2 linked regions of the Homo sapiens genome follow. The protein of the gene in region 1 purifies or fractionates together with the protein of each later gene. This does not show direct contact. Each region holds a gene or a part of one and is shown on either strand. Other genes may lie near its edges.

What was found. The genes of interacting proteins can lie anywhere in the genome.
Region 2: the proteins of SCHIP1 (region 1) and EXOC3 purify together in Homo sapiens (affinity purification with mass spectrometry; one large-scale study listed by BioGRID and IntAct). This does not show direct contact.

Annotation. Positions count from the first base shown.
Region 1 is NC_000003.12:159,759,244-159,762,743, reverse strand, and holds part of SCHIP1 (schwannomin-interacting protein 1), read right to left. Parts: intron 1-3,500.
Region 2 is NC_000005.10:452,261-457,223, reverse strand, and holds part of EXOC3 (exocyst complex component 3), read right to left. Parts: intron 3,855-4,963; coding exon 3,173-3,854; intron 336-3,172; coding exon 218-335; intron 1-217. UniProt on the Homo sapiens protein: Component of the exocyst complex involved in the docking of exocytic vesicles with fusion sites on the plasma membrane.

The DNA of each region.
Region 1 (3,500 bases):
AATACCAACACTTGGAAAAACATAGATGCATCACAGAGCGCCTACTAAGGATTTCCTGTGAACCAACCATTCTGACCTGTAAGAACTGGGAAACTAGGAAATGCCCTTTTCTCTGTGGTGATTGTGAAAAATATTACTTAATTTTATAACAAATCGGAGAGAACCAATTTCTCTGAACTTCCAGATTTGGGCCTGTTGCTAATTGTTCCCAGTGAATTCTAGCCTGGACCAAATGAATTCCCTGGCGTGGCACAGTCCAGATGGAAGAAGAGGGGAATGCATGGGATTCCTAAGTAGGGAGTGGCTGCCACCCTGAGGATTCTTCTAAGCCCTAGTGGGATGTGGTGCTGAGATCCTTTTTGAAGTGATTTCTGTGAGGCACGACTCTCCTGTGCTAGGTAGACCTGAGCCAGGGAAGGTAATCTAACCTTTCAACTCCTCTGGAAGCAGCAATCTTAGGAATAACTGGAAAAGGGGCCTTCCGGTCTGGCCAGCTGTTTTGTAAAACGGTACTGATGATTATTTAAATTGTCTTTTATGGTAACATCTGTAAACAGCCTGTCTTGTGCTCCAAATACGGTTTGATTTTGAGATTGCTGTGGAGCCCTGCCTGCCACTCCAGCGGGGTGGAGGTGGCCCTGTGAGTAGGAAGATGTAAGTAGGAAACATTTGGTGTGCTGGGAATTAGATAGCTGTTTTTCAGTTCACCATATGACATGGCATGGCTTAGATCACAAAAAGCTCCCTGCTCTGTGGCAGGACACAGGTAGACAGATAAGTACTGATCACCTGGGGTGATGAGAGAGAGTTGTGGTTTCATTCCAAGTTTTGAATATTAGGACCTCCTCAGCCACCCACCCAGACTCCCTCTGAGCTCTGGGCTCATCCCCCTGTTGCCCAGATGGTCCATGTTCAGGGAATGCAAAATAAGGCCTAAGAAAAATGTTTGGCAAAGTAAGTCTAGTGCCAAAAATGCATGGCATTTCAAAGCCAAATATAAACATCTTTGAATTACCTGTACTTTTAAATTATTTTCCGACCAGATAATTTCTGGATCAGATGGGAAAGTACCAGGTTTCCCTTCTTTTCTCTTCATGCAAGGTGCCTGGCTAGCCCAGTTTCCTTTCTGTTTCCAGCCTTCCATCTCCTGCCAGGAACCCTCCCACTTTGGAACAGGAAGCCCTGCCAACTCCTAGGCCCAGCAACAGCCTGCAGATATGTCCAGCAGGATAGGGAGATGATTTGCAAAGTGATTGAAAGATTCTGTCTTCCTGTTTACAGGGACATTTTTTCAAGTTAGGAGCTTGGAGCTTTCAGACTTAGATTTGTCTCTTGAAACCTTTGTAAATTAGACATCAGAAGTGTGGGATAAGCACCTTTGTGCTCTGGCTCCAGCACCTTTCCCCATCAATCAACAAGTCCTGTCAATTCTACGTAAGTACAAGATCCCTCTCAAATACACACTGCCCCCACCCCAGTCTAGGCCGCTGTGTCCTGAAATTACTAAAGTTTCCCAACTGATTCCTGCCCATTCTCTTCATGCAGCCAGAGTGGCCTTACTAAAATGCAAATCTGAACAAGTTTCTCCCTTGCTTCATTAACTACTCCCCTACCCACCCAGGTCTACTCACTGCTCTTAAAGGAACTGTTTCTCCTCCTCCACCCCACTTCTTTTGGTAAATTTTTACTCATCCTTCAAGTCTCAGCTTAAATGTTACTTCCTCAGGGAAGGCTTGCCTGATTCTCTGTACCTGCCCTTACTGGGTCGGGTGACATTCGCACGTGCCCGTGACACTCACTGCATTTATCTTATGCACTGTATTGAGGTTGCTGTTTAATTGCTAATCTTCTCACTAGACTCATAAGAAATACTTTTATATCAAGACATAGGCCAAACATTCATATAAAAATATATGCAAGGGAAAGAAAGTTTCATAAAACTCTTATTTTGTAAAATCATATTCGAATTCATGTAAAACTAAATCTGGTCACACCTTACTGCATTGACTTCCCAACCCTTAGATGGGTCAGGGCTTCTAGTGTGAAAAAAATACTCTAAATTCCATGAAGTGGGGGACAATTTCCCTCATTCACGGTAATTGGAATGGAATAGGAGCTTAACAGGTATTTGTTGCTGGAATTATTAACGATAATATCTAATTCATATAATCCTCGATCCTATGAAGAAACTACTATTATCCCCACTTACAGATGAGGAGGCTGAAGACAGTGAGGTTAAGTAACTTGCCAAGTGTCAAAAAGCTGGTAAGGTAGATGGCAGAGCCAGGATTTGAACCTGAGTAGTTTGCATTCAGAATTCTTGTCCTAGTCACTCAGCTTAGTATCCTTTGGTCAAGGTGCATGTGAATGAATTTACCAAGCAAAAATGTCAGAAAGGGTCTCCTTGCAGCTACTTCAAACTAGATCTCAGTCTGCCCTGCAGAGGCTCCTTGGGCAGTATTTATGTCTGTGCAGTGAAGAAGGCATCTGGCAAGAACAGCTGTTCCCCTTTGCTCACATGTACTCAACCTCCTAAACCACCAAGTCTAGCAATATTTAGCAAGTAGGGAGATTTAATTGTATAAAGGAAGAGTATAGATACTTCCAAAAATGCAATTTCACATTGTTATGAACTATGTGCTGTATATCCCCCCCACCCCCCTGCAAAACAAATCCTTTAAAAAGAAAGCCACCATGAGACTGGGGTATTTATTTTGTCATCAGTAGGAAACTGTCTAGATTAATACTTAAAGATAGGGGTAAGAAGATCATGTTCCTCAGGGGTCAGTGCTATTTATAGGATTTTAATCTGTAAAGGCAACATTTGAGAAAGGACATGATTGAAATATTTGAATCAAAGAGTATGAATAGACAGGAAAATATTTATTTGCAGAATTTCCAAACTAATTCTTATATTATTAGCCCCGATGCTGAACCTTAAGTCGTGGCATTTAGAGTAATAAAGAAATGGCTGGCAAAGGGTTTGTATTTCATCTTTATTACATGAATTACATGCAGGTCACATGCAATACACAGATGCTCTCCTATTTAATCACCTGAATATAACTACATGGAGATATTTAACAGCCCTGTGGGGTAAAGGGTCCTGGATACAGAACATCTGGGGTTTGTTTCTGGCCCTATCTCTAACCAACTTTATGACCACAGATTCCTCATGAAGGAGCCCAGACACTTGATCACAGTGTTTGGCAAATAGTAACAATTAATTAAATGAATAAATAATGAGTGAACTAAAAAGCTACTTCCAGCTTGAAGACTATGGATTTCATTCTAGAAACAATGAGAAATATAGTATAAAAATGTCTCCGAATCTTTTCATCACCTTCCTTGTTGGGTGATACAAAGTTGGTTCCTCCACTAATTAAAAATCCAGATCTATCTCTATTAGACAGGTTGGCCTTCTTGGATGCATGGTAGCTCTCTTTTATTTCTGTAGAGCCAATGGGTTAATCTTAACTTACTAGTCTATACGTGTAGAT
Region 2 (4,963 bases), on another chromosome or scaffold:
GAGGACAAGCTTCAGATCCAGGCCCAGAGAAGGGGCCATTCTCCTCTTCTAGCAAACTGACCTGTCAAGGCCTGGAAGCAGAGCCCGGGCAACTGAGCAATGCATCCTAGGAAGTCAACGCTAAGGCATTTCCCCCCTGCCTCCTGCCTGCTGCCAAGCCCTAGTTACTCATATAACCAGCACGGTGGTCTGTGGCACGCAGGCCAGCCCTACTCACAGTGAGCGTGGACATGTACGTGTCAAGCAGCTCAGAGACCACGTGTGGAGAAAGCAATGGCTCCAGGGTGCCGACATCCACTTCCGGGGCCAGCTCCACGTTCCTCATCATCTCAGTACTATGGGGGAACCAGGAATGTGAGTGACAAACCACGACAGACACAGAAGAGCATGCCCAAGTGTGCCGAGACTGTTTCACTTGACACATGAATGTCCACCACCCTGGAGACTTCCTGGTCACAGCCGGCCCACAGCTCAGGGGAAAGTGCAGGGCAGGGGCCGAGGGCTTTGGGGTCTCTGTGGCATCACCCCACTGGCTCCCAGACTGCGTGAGTCCCTCCAACCGGGGAAAGTGCAGGGCAGGGGCCGAGGGCTTTGGGGTCTCTGTGGCATCACCCACTGGCTCCGAGACCACTTGAGTCCCTCCAACCCCAGCTTCACCCTGCTGCGCCAGCTTCATGAGGTGCTGGGGCTCAAATGTGGAAGAGCCTTTCCTGTGGGGAAGACGTGTGTTCTATTCACTGCACCTGCAGAGCCGAGGCAGGGCCTGGCAAACAGGAGGCGCTGAATAAACAAACGTACTCAGTCAAAACGACAAGCACAGCCGCCCCCACAGCCACGGGCGCCACGTCCACTGACTCAACCAAACACAAACTGAAAGTATTTGGGAAAAACAACAATAAAAAATAATAAAAATTTCAAAAAATATAGAACAACTATTTCCATAGCATTCACATTGTATTTAGTCTTATAAGTAATCTAGAAATGATTTAGAGCATGAAGGAGAATGTACGCAGGTTACGTGCAAACACTATACCCTTTTATAAAGGGGACTTGGGCTACGGAGGATTTTGATAGCCAAGGGGGGTCCTGGAATCCCTCCCCATTGAGTATGGAGGGGCAGCTGTGCTGTCCTTTGGAAACAAGCCACTGCAGTCCACATCAATATGCTCTGCAGACGGTGATGACTGGAACGTACAATACAGGACATTACTGATAAAAACGCATCCGCAAGAACAGGCAAAACTACGTGAGGTCTACTGTCCAGAAGACAGGAAACACATGCTACATTTCAGGAAAAGTTTTCATTAGAAAGTTATTATCAGCCGGGCATGGTGGCTCACGCCTGTAATCCCAGCACTTTGGGAAGCCGAGACGGGCGGATCATGAGGTCAGGAGATTGAGACCATCCTGGCTAACACAGTGAAACCCCATCTCTATTAAAAATACAAAAAAATTAGCGGGGCATGGTGGCACGCGCCTGTAGTCCCAGGTACTCGGGAGGCTGAGGCAGGAGAATGGCGTGAAGCCGGGATACACCTACTATGTACCCACAAAAATTAAAATTAAAAAGTTTTTTTAAGTCTAAGGTTTGACCACTCAGAAAATTCTTTCAACTCACACGCCTCATGCTATGTTCCGTAAATACGTTCTCAGAGTAACACTGAATAAAATGATTAAGAGCCAGTCCACTATAAGAAATCCGAGAGCTTCCTAAGTGAAAAAGTACTTCCTAAAATTCTGCACATTTTAAAAGACTTTTATTTAATCTGGATTATTTTTCCCAAGAACCTCAATTCCGTGTGAGAATGTTTCTAGTGGAGCACTTCAACCTCCCCTGAGAAAGGCCGGGGTGATGGAACTCACGAGACTCCCCAAGGACAGAAAAACACTCACAACGTGGAAAGACAAAATCAAGACACAAACTGTGCAAGGTGCACACATGCACAGCCCAGCCTAGTGGCCATGGCCCGGGAGGGCCCAGGGATGGGACTGGAATCCAGCTTCCCACTCACTGGCCGTGTCCCCTGCCTCCTGCCTCATGGGCTGCTGACACACACCAGGCACGGAGGGGGAGACCTGCACTGTCAAGGCTACAGAATGGGCGGCCATGAGGATGAGCGGCAGCCAGGGGAGGTGAGTCCAGGGCTGTGCACAGAGAGCCACAGTTGCACAGAGCGCCACGGTTGCACAGAGAGCCACCATTGCACAGAGCGTCACGGTGACCATTCTCTGCAGGGGGCGCTTCCTTTCTCTTCTGTCCTTCTGTATTGAAATGCAAATTCTCTATAAGCAGATACCAGTAAACAAAGCACACAAAAAAATATGCCTTACTGCTAAAAAAAAAAAAAAAAAAAATGAGGTTTATTCAATTTCTCCACTGCAGTGACAAGATGGGCGGAAGAAAAAAAAGAAGAAGAAGAAATTCCAATACATTACTTAATATTATTTTCTAACCATGAAACCATGGAAAATTGAAATAAATTTTCATTTCGGCTACCTAATCTTAAAGAATTTCAGAATACCCCCACCACTGCACCATTTTTCAACACTACTTCAAATTAATCCACGCACAGAGTGGTTCATGGTCCCTTAAGTGAAGTGACAAAACCTCGTACTAGGATACAAAAAGGATGATGGAGTTTCCTCGAACTATCTAGACTTGTAACTGTTTATTTTTGAAAGACTCACTGCTATAGGATATTGGTGAAGAGAAACCAAACCCGGGATGCTGGAAGCCAGGGAGGTGATGTAGTGGTCTCCTCCCCAGTGGGGTGGCCATGTGCCAGTCCCAGCCCCGCCTGGGACCATGTGTCCTCACCTGTAAAATGGGGTAACAACACACCTGCCTCAGGGTGTCACTGCAAGGAAGCAAGTCAGCACACGGTGAGCACAGGAAACAGGCCCAGCCCAGAGCTGCACCCTGTCAAGCTCAACGGGGGCTGGAGGCCAAGAGCAGAGATCCCTCCCAAGCACAACAGTGTTCAAACACCAGAGGCTGGGCACCAGCAGGCAGAGCAGAAAGAAGACACCCCTGGGCTGGAAACCAAGGCTGTGGGCTCGGAGCACCTGCCCAGAGCAACACCCTGAGGTCGGCTCTCCAGCAAGCAGCTGCAGGCCCCTCTCACACACGGCTTCTACCTAAGAGCCAACACAGGCGCCAGGTTAGCTTTACCTTGTGTAGGTGTTTAAGACCCACGTCAAGAGGCTCACGATCTCATTGGCTTCCAGGTCTTCCGATGCGAGGTCCTGCATCCGCGTGCTCAGGGCTTGGTGGTACATGTTCAGGAGGTTCTTAAAGATCTCATAGTGGGGAGGAAAGCACTGAACCATCAGGTTTTTGGCGACAATGAGGTCATCCAGGACGTACTTCCTTATAATTTCCAGGTGGCGGACAAGCCACATCTTGTCAGACTCTCTGGTATCTGCCTGTGTGCCCTCAATTCTGGTGGTCACAGTCCTCTCCAAGATGGTGAACATTTTCTCCTTCCAATTCTTGGGCCTCCCAGGAGGAACAAAGCCAGTTTGCTTTTTCCGGTCAAGTATGCGCCTGTCAATTTTCTCTTCCCTTTCAATGATCCTGACAACTGAGACCAGCAAGGTGGGGTCACGGCGGACAGTGACCAGTGACCTCTGCAGCACCATCCACAGCTGCTTAGCCAGCTCATCAGAGAGCCCCTGCGTGCTGCCAAAGTAGCCATGGATGAGGGTCATGTCACGCGTGTTCCCACTGTCCATGCGGTACTGCTCGTACATCAGCCCGTCCCGGGAGCACTCCAGGTCCATCAGCTTCCGGTGGGCTTGCAGGAGTGCCCCTTGTTCAATTAGGTCCTGGGTCTCCCTCACAATCTCAGGCACTAGGGAGAAGGCACAAGACACAACATAAACAACCACCACCACATAAAAGGCTGCCTGCATGCGGTGTTCTGGGAACACGGCAGAGCAGGAAGCCACATCTCCCTAGCTAACAACAACTGCAATGGCAGGATGTGTCTGAGGTAACTATCTTTGGAACTCTGGAGTCTATTAAAGGCATAAATGGTAAACTGTGGTTAACTGTGGTCATTTGCAGCTCTCAGCTGGGCAGTGGCTACCGAGGCCCCACCTCCCACCCCGCAGGCAGCTGTGCATGTGCTGATGTGTTCCTAAAGCTGCCTGCACACAGCCTGCAGCCTGGCTGGGCAAAAAGAACCCTGTCCTCCACACCGGAGATCTGTACTCAGATCACTGACTGCTGCTTCTGACCACAGAGGTGCGAAGAGGTAAGTGGCCACTGTTGCATCTTCCCCTGTTCACAGGTCCCTCCTCACCCCCACAGAGCTCCAGGGAATTTAAAGGGCCAATGTCTTCACCACCCCCTTCATCTGTTCCCCTTCTTGAAAGCCAGATATTTATGAATGAAGACATTCAAAAGTAACTGCATTTATAGGAAAAATTCGGAAGTGGCCAATGCATGCCCAGGCAAAGGCATAGGCTCAGAAAAGACTTGACACGACCTTGAAGTTCACACCTCAGGCTGTGCCTTGGCACAGAGAGCCTACAACAACCAAAAACAAGAATCATCAACCTGGGAAGGGGATCTGATTTCCAGAGTTATCACATTATTCGATTCAAGTGTCCATTTTTCAACAACAAAAACATCACAAGGCACCCAAAGAAAGAAGAAAGTATGGCCCATTCAAAGGAAAACATAAGAAACTGTTCCTGTAAAAGATCTGATGGCAGATCTACTAGAGAAAGACTTTAAAACAACGATTTAAAGATGCCTAAGGAACTTAAAGATGTGAAGAAAGACATGTATGAGCAAAATGGAAATACCAATAATGAGACAGAAAATCCAAAAGGAAACCAAACAGAAAATATGAAGCTGAAAAGTACAATAAATGAAATGAAAAATTCACTAAAGGGATTCAAAGGCAGATCTGCACAGGCGCAAGAAAGAATCAGTGAATGTGAAGACAGGACA